2 separate regions of the Homo sapiens genome follow, and region 1 is linked to region 2. The links come from fine-mapping of genetic effects on gene expression. A gene starts in region 2. The other region holds a variant in brackets. All regions are shown on one strand. Distances are between the middles of the regions.

Region 1 (5,364 bases), 140 kb before region 2:
TGTGTTTGCATTTTGCCCTAACTGAATCCACTGTCTGCCTTGAGGTCGCCATGACCCTATAAGTGGGCAGCCAGGGTGGCAAGAGTGTGTCTCCTTCCATCTCTAGGGGAGGGGTGAGCACTGCCTTTCCCCCACCCAGGCCAAGGACTGAGGTCCTCCCAGTTCAGGATATACTCTTTGGCAGGCCCACTTGGCCAGGCCCTGTGGTGGGCACTGGAGACACAGATGTGGCCAAGGCTTGGGGTCTCTGTCCCCAAGTAGCTTGTATTCTAGTCGATGTGAGAGCAGGCAGTGTGGCATAGTAAATCAGTATGGCAAATGCAGTAGCGGGGGAGCCCCCCAGCCAGCCCCCTCCTCACCCTGGGGTGCAGGCAAGGGTGTATTGGAGGGTATGTCAGAGCGGGAGATGGGTTTTGAAGGATGAGTAGGAGTTTGTCAGGTGATACAGGCATAAGGAGGAGACACAGTCCTAGCACAGGGAACAGCAGGAGCACAGGTGTGGAGGTGAGCAGCAGCCTGGAACACCGTGGGAGTGCAGACAGGACACGCGGCAAGGAGGGGCTGGTAGGAGATGAGACTGGAGCGGCTGCAGGGTTCAGTCATGGGACCTTGGATGTAAGTCCAAGGCCCAGCTGTCAAGCCTGTTATAGGCAGGCAAAGTGGACTGGGCTGGGCCTGGATGCTGGCACCAAGCATGCTTGTGACCCTCCCAGAATAAGGTCTGGTTGCATTCTAAACAAATCCAATGTGCTATGCAGGACCCAGAGCCCAGACAGGGTAAGAAGTTGCCTAGCACTTCTGTGGCAGGGCCAGCTCAGCATTCATAGCCCTCCGGGGTTAGAAATCTGTGCTGGGCTAATCACCTGAGGTCAGGTGTTCGAGACCATCCTGGCCAATATGGCGAAACCCCGTCTCTACCAAAAACATAAAAATTAGCGGAGCATCGCGGCCAGCACCAGTAATCCCAGACACTTGGGAGGCTGAGGCAGGAGAATCGCTTGAACCCGGGGAGGCGGAGGTTGCAGTGAGCTGAGATCGCGCCACTGTACTCCAGCCTGGATGACAGAGTGAGACTCTGTCTCAAAAAAAAAAAAAAAAAAAAAGAAAGAAAGAAAGAAAGAAATCTGTGCTGGGGTTGGAAGGGACTGAGAGGCCTTCTGGAAGACAGAATGACCCAGAGAAGAGTAGGCTGGGATGTTGGCTGCCCAAAACCTCGGGATGGGGAGAGAGCCAAGGGAAAGCATCCTTGAGGTGCTGCCTTTTCTCAGTTATCTGGGTGGGCCACCTGCCCTGGCATCCTGGAGCCACCAGGCCATGACCCACCCCACTCTAGGAGCTGTCCAAGCCTTGGCCCCTGTACCACCCTTAACCAATGCTGCTCAAGGGAAACAGAGACTTCCAAGTGGCTTCTTAGCCCCTTCCCACCCCTGTGACTCAAAGATGTCACTGTTCTCGTAACAAGAACCTGCCAAAGCTCAGGCTATGGGAGCCAGAGTGGGGATCAGAACAAACACCCTACCTCCCAGCACCCAGAGGCAGCCAGCCTTCCAGGGCATTGTTTGGTTTGGGGTCTGGGGGCTTCCTCTGGAGGGCTGAGGCCCTGCCTGGTGGGGTCAGACTCAGAAGGTTTTGCTAGGGTCCAGGCCAAGCTTGGCTCAGCAGAGAGAGGCTGTGGGTGTTGAGGGGGAGGTGAAGGAAGATGAAGACTTGGCCTTGCCTTCAGGGGTCCTAGACTGAGGGGGGAGACAGTGTCCCACCCTGAGGAGCCCAGTCTGAGAGGGGAGATGTGAGCCTGCCCAGGAAGCCCCTATATGTATGAGGAGGGTTGCACTGTCACATCTGAGCAGGAGGCAGGACGCACACACTCCTGATAAGGACACATGAAAAGAACAGATGGCGCCAACAAGTGCAAATTAATTGAGCGAAGCCTGTGTACATAGGCGCTGTGAACAGGCAGGCTGATGGCTCAGGAGGGGTGGTGCGGGGGCAGGGCAGGGAGCAGGGAGAAGCTGTAACGAGCACTTACCGATGTCTCGCTGGATCTGCAGCCGGTAGCACAATTATTGACAAAGCCTGTCTATAAATCTCCCAGCCATGTCTTCAGAAACCTTAATTACGGGGCCTCATTACCCTTCACACCTCTAGGCACGGGGGACCCTCCTGGGCTGGGGCGGCTGCTGACACTGCGGCTGGCCTGCCATGGACAG[G/T]CTGAACCCCTTCAGGAAGATGTGCCTAGCGGGGGTGTCCAAGGGACACTATTCAGGACCACGTGGCTCCGAGGAACGAGCAGAGGCTCAGCCTCTAGGCAAGGGCAAGGGGGTGAAAGGGACTTTGGAACAAGGGGAACATAAGCTGGGTTTACATTCTAGTTTTGCCAGTCCTTCTGGACTCTGATGGGCACCTTCCCTCTCTGAACCTCAGTTTCCTCATCTGTACAATGAGGAGAGGGCTGTGGTGAAGATTACGTGAGCAAGGTCTGTCTAGTGTTGAGCACAGTGCCTGGCATGTGCTGTGTGAGTAACATCTGTCCCTTTCATCTCTTCTCGGTCACTGTCTGAAGCTACCAAGAAAGAAAAGCGGCCCCTGGTGGCCAGGAGCTGGCGGCCACAGCTGGACCCTGGTGTCATTCACAACACCACTCTCTGACCACTCTGTAAAGTGTGTGAACACAGATAAAACATAGTCATTGTCCAAACCACAAAAATGACCAAACTCCCTTTCCTGGCTAATATGAGTGACTGCTGCTTCTTTATTAGTGACCATCATTCCTGCCTTCTCGATGAGAACTCCTATGATACCGACTCTTAGAATGCTGATTCTAAGCCAGCCTCCCGCTGTCATCTAACCCAGAGCAAAGCCTGTTTCCTCAAACCCTTTCCCAAATCCCCTAACACCAGCTTGAATCTGTGAAGTCCTTTCCCACACACTCTTTCTGGGATGCCCCGCAACTCCCATGGTTGCATCCCCCTTACTACAACGAGTCAATAAACCCAGAATAACTCCAACTTTGTTAAACTGCATGTGTGTTCCTGGTCGTTTTCAGCTGGAGGGGTTGAGATCCTGCTATTAGAGCCTCGTCTGTTTAGATGACTGTGCTCTCCAGGCCTGAATCCTAGGCTCTCATTTTCACATTCTTCCCTCTCATTATTTTTGCGAAGCATGTGCCCACTGTGTCCCATTTGTTGTCCTCACCCAGGCCAGGAGAGAACACACTGGGGTAGGGGGTGTGGAGGGGAGAGATGCTGGGGGCACCTGCCACATCTCTCCCTGGGGGAAGGAGCCCTGTCTGGACATTTGGGGCTCTTGGGGGATCCAAGGAGGCCTAGACCATCTTTAGCCTTGGGAGGGACCATGGGTAGGGGAAGGGACCAGGGTGATGGGAGCTCAGTGTCACAGGAGAGCAGAGGTGGGGTGAGACCACCCGTCCTGCCTCCAGGCCTGTGCTACAGGCCCCGTGCGCCCTGTCCAGGCAGATCACGGTCCTGCCTCCAGCCTAGGCCACAAGCCTCCTCCCCAGCCCTGTGTTGCGGAAAACCACCTCACTGCTGCCAGGCTCCAGGCCACCCCAGAGCTTCACAAAGTGCTTCAGCCATCAAAACCCCAGTAATCCCTGTGTTCAGCTTTGCCTCTTGAGGCTTGAGCCTCAAGGCAGTTGGTCCTTTCAGAGCCCCCCACCTCCCCTGCCTGTCACCCAGCCTCTTTTGGCCTCAGTTCCTCTCACACCTCACTCTCCCCATCCCTGAGAGTCCCCCATGGGAACCTTCTCTACAGCCTGCTCAGCCTTGCCCACTGCTCAGGTAATGGAAATCCAGGGCCCAGACCTCACAGATGCAGGTGGCAATGAAGGGAGGGGGCTTCCTGGGGGCAGCACTCTCGCTGCTGGCGGGTACCCTCCCTGCTGGCTCTCTCAGGATGCCCCCTGACCACCTCAGGCCCCTCAGAGTCGGTCTCAAAATTCAAATTTCTTTTTTTTTTTTTTTTTTGAGATGGAGTCTCCTCTGTCGCCCAGGCTAGAGTGCAGTGGCTTGATCTCGGCTCACTGCAACCTCTGTCTCCTGGGTTCAAGCTATTTTCCTGCTTCAGCCTCTCAAGTAGCTGGGATTACAGGCATGCACCATCACGCTCAGCTGATTTTTGTATTTTTAGTAGAAACGGGGTTTCACCATGTTGTTCAGGATGGTCTCAATCTCTTGACCTCGTGATCTGCCCGCCTCGGCCTTCCAAAGTGCTGGGATTACAGGCATGAGCCATTGTGCCCGGCCTCAGAATTCAAATTCTGATTAGCCAGACCTTCTGCACCAAGCACATCTCCAGTCCTGCCTCCTAACCATCTTCCCAGAGTTGTTTTTGTTTTTATTTTGTTTGAGTCAGGTTCTCACTCTGTCATCCGGGCTGGAGTGCAGTGGCGGGCACATGGCTCACTGCCCGCAGCCTCAACCTCTTAGGCTCAAGCAATTCTCCCACCTCAGTCTCCCAAGTAGCTAGTATTACAGGCACGTGTCACCATGCTTGGTTAATTTTTTAAAAAAATTTTGTGGAGACGGCATCTCGCTATGTTACCTAGGCTGGTCTCAAGCTCCTGGTCTCAAGTGATCCTCCTGCCTCAGCCTCCCAAAGTGCTGGGATTACAGGTGTGAGCCACTGCGCTAGCTTCTCCCAGAGTTTTTAAGTTCCCCTCATACTTAAAGTCCAGGCTGTTCTGTTGAGATGGCTGGTGGAGGACTTGGGGGGTCTGGAACGGGTGGGGCACAGATCCATTTGTAGTGGATAAATAGATTCCCTGAAGGAGTGGCCAATAGTGGTGTAAGATGTGGGTCTTGGAGGGACCGAGAGAGATGGAAGCTTGTTCCCAGACCCTCTGCACTCTCCTACACTGTACTCTTCACTCCCCACTGTAGGAAAAAAAGGCGCCAGAAGCTCTTCATGGCTCACAGAAGCCGCTCCAGGCACTGTGAGGTTTTCACAGCCAGCCTGGGGATAAGGGCTAGCACTGTCCCCCTTTCCCAGCTAAAGAGACTGAGGTTCCTGTAGGTGCTGGCTGGGAGCCGAGTAGGAGGTAAACACCTCTGTGATCCAGACCACCCCTGGTCCACCAAGCTGCTCAGGAAGGGCATTCTGTGCATTCAGTGAGCACACACTTACTGAGCACCCACTGCACGCCAGGCACCTGGTGTGGAGGTGGGCGAGGGGTACAAGGTGGAGTGAGCCGGGAACACAGGCCTGGAGCTGGGAGGAGGCACCACTGCCATTGAGCATGGGTAGAATATTCTGGGTTCAGGTAAAGGCTTGAGGCAGGGGCTTCAGAAGCCCCAGGGCCCATCAGGCTGAGGGGCTCCTGTTGCAGGCAAGGGAACAATGCATGGG
Region 2 (5,364 bases):
AGGAGCAGGCCTGGGGGCAGCTGCCCAGGGACCCCTTCTGCGACTGCAGCCTCAGGGTTCCCAGCACGGCTGAGGTAGATGATGACCACATTGTCCTCCGGCCCTGATGGCTGCACCTCGTTGTCAACCGTATAGCAGCCCTTTCCCTCAACCGCTTTGCCATGGAACCTGCGCCCCAGTGTGTCCTCACCACCCTCACCGGGCGTGGCCAGTGCCACGTCCACTGAGCTCTCAGCACTGCCCAGCTCATTGGTGGCCAGGCAGCTGTAGGTGCCTTCCTCCAGCTTGCCAAAGTCGGGGATAAGCAGGCTGCCATTGGCAAAGGCCTGGAAGCGCGGCTGGGAGCTGGCCACAGGGGTGCCAGGCAGGGCACGCCCATCAGTGCCCACGTTGGGGCTGGTGATCTCCACAATGCCACTGGGTATCTGGATGTGCCAGTGAAGCTGAGGGGCCGGCTGCCCGTCCACATCACAGTGCAGTGCCAGCACAAAACCAGGCCGCAGCTCGGCACCATCCTGGCTGGGTTGGTAGCTGAGCTGCACTGAGGGCGCCGAGCATGGCAGTGGCGGCAGGCGGCTCAGCGGCGTACCCTTGAGCACATGGGGTGAGGTGCAGGCGATGTTGTCCTGCTCCGGGATGGACACGGCCGTGGTCAGGGCCCATGTCTTGAGCCACACGATGCCGCAGGTGCAGTCGAAGGGGTTCTCGTTGATCTGCAGGTGGGACAGCGCGGTGAGCGGGGTGAAGGTGCCCTCGGCCAATGTGTGCAAGCGGTTGTGGTTGAGTTGCAGCGAGCGCAGAGCACGGAGGCTGCGGAAGGCGTCGCGGGGGATGAAGGTCAGCTCGTTGCTGTCCATCTTGAGCAATTGGAGGGCACTGAGGTTGTGCAGGTCGCTCCAGGCAAAGTCAGAGATGAGATTGTGGCTGAGGTCCAGGCTCTTGAGATGGCTCAGAGAGGCCAGGGCTCCGGCGGCCACCGTGCGGATCTCATTGTGTGCCAGCCACAGCGACTGCAGCAGGGGCACCTCCCTGAAGGCACCCTCCGGCAAGCCTGGCAGCCGGTTGGCTGACAGGCTCAGTGTAGTCACATTGGCCGGGAAGCCAGGCGGCACGGATTCTAGGTCGCGGTAGGCACAGTCGGCGATCTGGAAGCCATACTTTTCCCCACAGTCGCAGGGCTCAGGGCAGGCCTGAGCCAGGCCCAGGAGAAGCGCCCACCAGAGCAGATGCAGCTCCTGCATGGTGCCTCCTGCAGAGAAAGGCATGTCACCCAGGGGATCCCGAGAACCTGCCAAAGGGACTCATTCCTCCCACAAGCCCAGCCAGAGCTCTTTCCCATCAGGAGGCCCTGTCCCACATAACCCAGCTAAATCCCAACACCACCTAGCCCACCGCCCCCATCCTACGGAAGGAGAAACTGAGGCCAAGAGAAGGGCGGAGACTTGCCCGAGGTCACGCAGCCAGGCAGGATGAAGACGGGATGGAAGAGGACCCCAGCTCCTCCTCCGAGTGGAGAGTTCTCCCTGCCTCGGCCTGTTCCTAGCTGACTTTATGACTTGAAATCTGTTTTCCAGCCACCCCCCTCCCCCAGCACTTTGCAGAACCTCCCCCTGCCCTCCCACATCCTGGCCGCAGTCCCTCCCACCGGAGCCCCCCATAGGTATGCTTTGCCTTGGCCCAGACGAGGCCCCTTGTGCAGTGCACACCACCCCCATCCACTCCACCCGCCCTCTCCCGCTCCTCCGGCCATGACCGCAGCAGACACCAGGCCTTTTCTGTGGAATCACACCCGTGGCCTGTTCTGTTCAAACTTAGCCAGGCAGCTGCCTAAATAAACCCCCGCCAGGACCTCTCAGCTGACTTGGGTGAGGCCAGAGGCTCAGCCCAAACGCAGCTGGGATTTCTGGGGCCTCAGTTGTGGGTTGTGGAAGAAGCAGATGCCCCCTGGACGGCTCCAAGCTAGGGATTGTCCCACGCACCTCAGACCAGCAGGGATGGACCAAGAGGGAACCAGCCCCTATGTCCAACAGGCCTCCCGCTCCCGCCGCTGGCCCTGGAGCCCTCCTCCCCACTGGCTTACCTTCAAGCTACTCTTAGTCAAGCGGAGCCTCTTCTAAGGTGGAACCAAAAAGCAACAGAGGACCTTAGCCCTGAGAGTCTGCAGGGCCACGGGCGCCCAAGGGAGGACTTGGATGCTGGGGCGAGGGGCAGCCTGGTCCCACCCCACCTTCGATGTGCAGGCCTGTGCCCTCCCTGCCCCAGACAGGGTGCCTGGAACCATCCACTGAGAGGAGGCGGCAGGGAGGAGCCCGGGGCAGCCCGCGCACTCCCTCCTTCCAGCAAAACAACTGCTTCTCTGCAGCAACAAGGACCTGTGTTTCATAAGTGACACCAGAAACTTGAGGGGGGAAGAGATGCCAAATTTTTTTGGGTTGTGTTTTTTCTCTCTCTCTCACTCACTTTTAGCAGCTTCAACTTCCTTAAAGACACAGCACTGTCTGGAAAGGACCCAAGAAATGATGGGGCCAGGAGGATTTTAGCGGGGGAAGGGCGAGAAATTGAATCTCATGGAAGGTGGGAGATTTCCACTTCAAACAAGAAAAAACGGGAAGCTTTTGTCCAAGCCAGGGTTGTATGTGTGTTGGTGTGTATACGTGTGTGTGTGTGTACAAGTTTGTGGGTGTGAGGGTGCGTATTTCTGGATTTGTATGTGTGTTTGCATGGATGTGGGTATGAAACCATGTACATGAGTTTGTGTGTGAGTGTGTGTGTGTGTCTGTCTTGGTGTGGGTTTGTGTGTGGAAGTGAGTGTGCATCCATGTGTGTGTGTTTCAGTGAAAAGCCAAGAAGGCCAAAGTGTACAAAGCAGATACCAACCCTTCGGTGAAAGCCAAGATGTTAGGCATTTTTTTTTTTTTTAAGAAAACATATCCTGCTGGCTCTGAGACTGAGCTGCGCTAAATGCATGTTGTTGTCCAGGGAGCTCCCAAGACTCCAGGCCCCGCCCCTCACTGCGCTCCCCACTGGCTGGGGAGGAAACAGGGAGGCCTGGCTCAGAAAACTCAGGGCGGGAGCCTGTTGACCTTCAGTGCTCCTGGCTGGGATTCTGAGCCACCCAGGCCCACTGCCCACTGGGCACCCAGAGGGGAGGCCAAGGGGCCGCACTCCCGGAGAGTTCTCTCTGTGTCCCCCACAGGGCCCAAAATCCCACTGTTGGTGCTGGACATCTACGCGGTCAGCATCGGCCTCTCTGAGCTCCACTGTTCCAACACCAACTGTGTGGAAGGGGCAGACGCCTCCAGGGTGAGGATATGTGACCCCTTTTCCAAACGGGAAGGCCCAGGGGAGGGGAATGGGGAAACAAAAGAGGCCCAAAACGAGGGAGCTGGAAGAGAAACCGAAAGATGAAGGAGCCCAGAAAAGAACTTTGTAGACTGAAGAATTTTGCTCTCCACAGACAAGCCTACCGTATCCCCTCAGTAGCCCTCCCCAAGCTTCCTTGGCCTTCCATCTGATAACTGGTTGAATTCTGCTCATGACTCAACTTACCCTCTCAGCAGGGCCAAGGGCAGACAGGGCTCATCTTTGGCTGAAAGCATCCCCAGGAAGCCTGCCCCAGCTCATCACACCCCATTCCCTGTCACCAAGCAAGGCCACAGAAGTCCCCAGCATGCTGCCTGCAAAACACCCGAGTCTGATGCTGAGGATATTATTATGGTCCAATGGAGAGCACCCTCTCTTTCCCCTGCAGAGGAAGCCCTCTCTTGCATCATCCTGACTGTGCTGGAGAATTTCTAGGAAAGTCCTGAATTTGGTGGGCCAACCAGAGGCTGCAAGAAACACATCCAGGGTTCAGTAAACCAGAGGGGAGACTCAGTGACCTCAGTGTCAGTCAGGGAGGGCTTCCTGGTGGAGGGGGCTTCACTATGTTCTGCACAGCCCATACACACACCCTCACCTGCACAAAGTCTGTGCCACCAGCTTTACCTCCAGGGTGCTCTGAGGAGCTCATAGTTCCCACCCCACCTCCCTCCTTGCAAGCACATCAGGGTCAGAGTACAAGCACCTCCTCAGCCCTCAGTTCCCAGTGACTGTTCTCTCAGACATTCCTGACTTTTCTTCATAGCTCCTCCTATAAGCTGTGATTATTTATTCATGCGTGCTTAATGTGCGACCCCTTACTAGAGAGGAAGCCCACTGAGGGCAGAGGCCTTAACTTCCCAGGTGCTATTGATCTCCAGCACAGGGAAGACACTCTGTAAGCGCCCCCTTCATGGCATGATGGACAAGTTGGGTGGTCATCAGAAGGAAGCATTTTAGAGCTCACCCACTTCATCTCCTCATCAACTTACAGATAGGGCCTTTGGGCCCAGGCTAGGGAAGGGGCATGCCCAAGACATTTTAGAGAATATTTCATACAGTGTAGGAGACCCATGCTCTGTTGGGTGGGTGAGTATGTCAGCAGCCTTCTGGGGGCAGGGAGTCTGTCCCCTCATTCCCTACCTAAGACCTTAATGACAGCCAAACACTAAGCTCAGACTCCCACCTCAAAACAGATGTGGGGGGCTGAGGGCGGGAAAAGTGGGAGGGACCAGCCCACCTGGGCAGAAATGAGACTGTGCGTGCTGGTCACTGATGTATCTTCCTGGTCTGCTCAGGTCCTGCCACTGCCTGCAAGGTGTGGCCATACCCGCTTCCACCAGGAAGGACAATAAGGCCGCCAGGATCTCAGCCAAGGACTATTGACTCTCCAAGGTGTCTCACAGTGGGACAGGTGGGCCTGCTCCTCAGCAGAGCCCAGGAGCAGTTGTGCAGGCCTCTGAGGATGGGGCGTATGACCTCCTGGGTTGCCCCTCTGCTCTTCTCTTGCTGTCAGAGCTCAAGTTCTTTCTGTAAAGCCCACCTCACAGGAGATCATGCCAGCAGGCAGGGAGACAAGTCAGAAGTCGGGCTCCCTGATCTTTTCAGGCTGGGAGCTTCCTGTGGGCTGTCTGGGCTGCCATCTCCCCTCTCCTGGCCTCCTCTAAATTGGGCTCAGGCCTGAGATGGGGACCCTTGGTGAGTATGTGCGGCCCTGACTGTCCCCAGAACTAGGAGGCCAAGCTTGGGAGCCCCTCCTGTGAGTCCTGGCCCTGTCTCCTGTGGGTCCCTGGCAGCTTGTAGGGTGACCAGCCAACAGTCCTGGTTCACCTGGAACTGATGGGTTTTCTGGGACATGGGACTTTCCATGCTAAAATCGAGACAGTCTCAGCAAACCAGTACAGTTGGTCACCCTAGCAGGGGAGGGGGGCTCACTCCCTCCCACAGTTTTTCTTTCCCCCTGCTCCCCTTCCTGCCTGCAGAGGTCCAGCCCTCTCTCCTCCC

Which allele goes with the higher level. Positions count from the first base shown, and alleles are read on the strand shown. Sizes are in standard deviations (SD) of each study's normalised expression.
As copies of T replace G in region 1, the expression in tibial artery of the gene that starts at base 2,390 in region 2 goes down (small effect, 0.14 SD a copy in GTEx).

Evidence for each region. PIP is the estimated chance that this variant, and not a neighbour inherited with it, causes the effect.
Region 1: its variant is the best candidate, but not a certain one, in a credible set for the expression of ISLR in tibial artery (GTEx, PIP 0.68).

The regions. Positions count from the first base shown.
Region 1 is chr15:74,309,155-74,314,518 of GRCh38, reverse strand. All of the region lies in intron 11 of CCDC33 (coiled-coil domain containing 33), which reads right to left. CCDC33-AS1 (CCDC33 antisense RNA 1) reads left to right here. Exons shown (of 2, transcript XR_007064711.1): 2 at 2,561-3,005. Among named protein-coding and RNA genes, the nearest start is that of CCDC33-AS1, 7.9 kb to the left of the region's middle. The variant G/T (reference allele first, on the strand shown) is at 2,208.
Region 2 is chr15:74,170,736-74,176,099 of GRCh38, reverse strand. It overlaps ISLR (immunoglobulin superfamily containing leucine rich repeat), which reads right to left and starts at 2,390. Exons shown (of 2, transcript NM_005545.4): 1 at 2,081-2,390; 2 at 1-1,249. The coding sequence starts at 1,241. RefSeq lists enhancers at 680-1,668, 1,669-2,656, 2,657-3,645.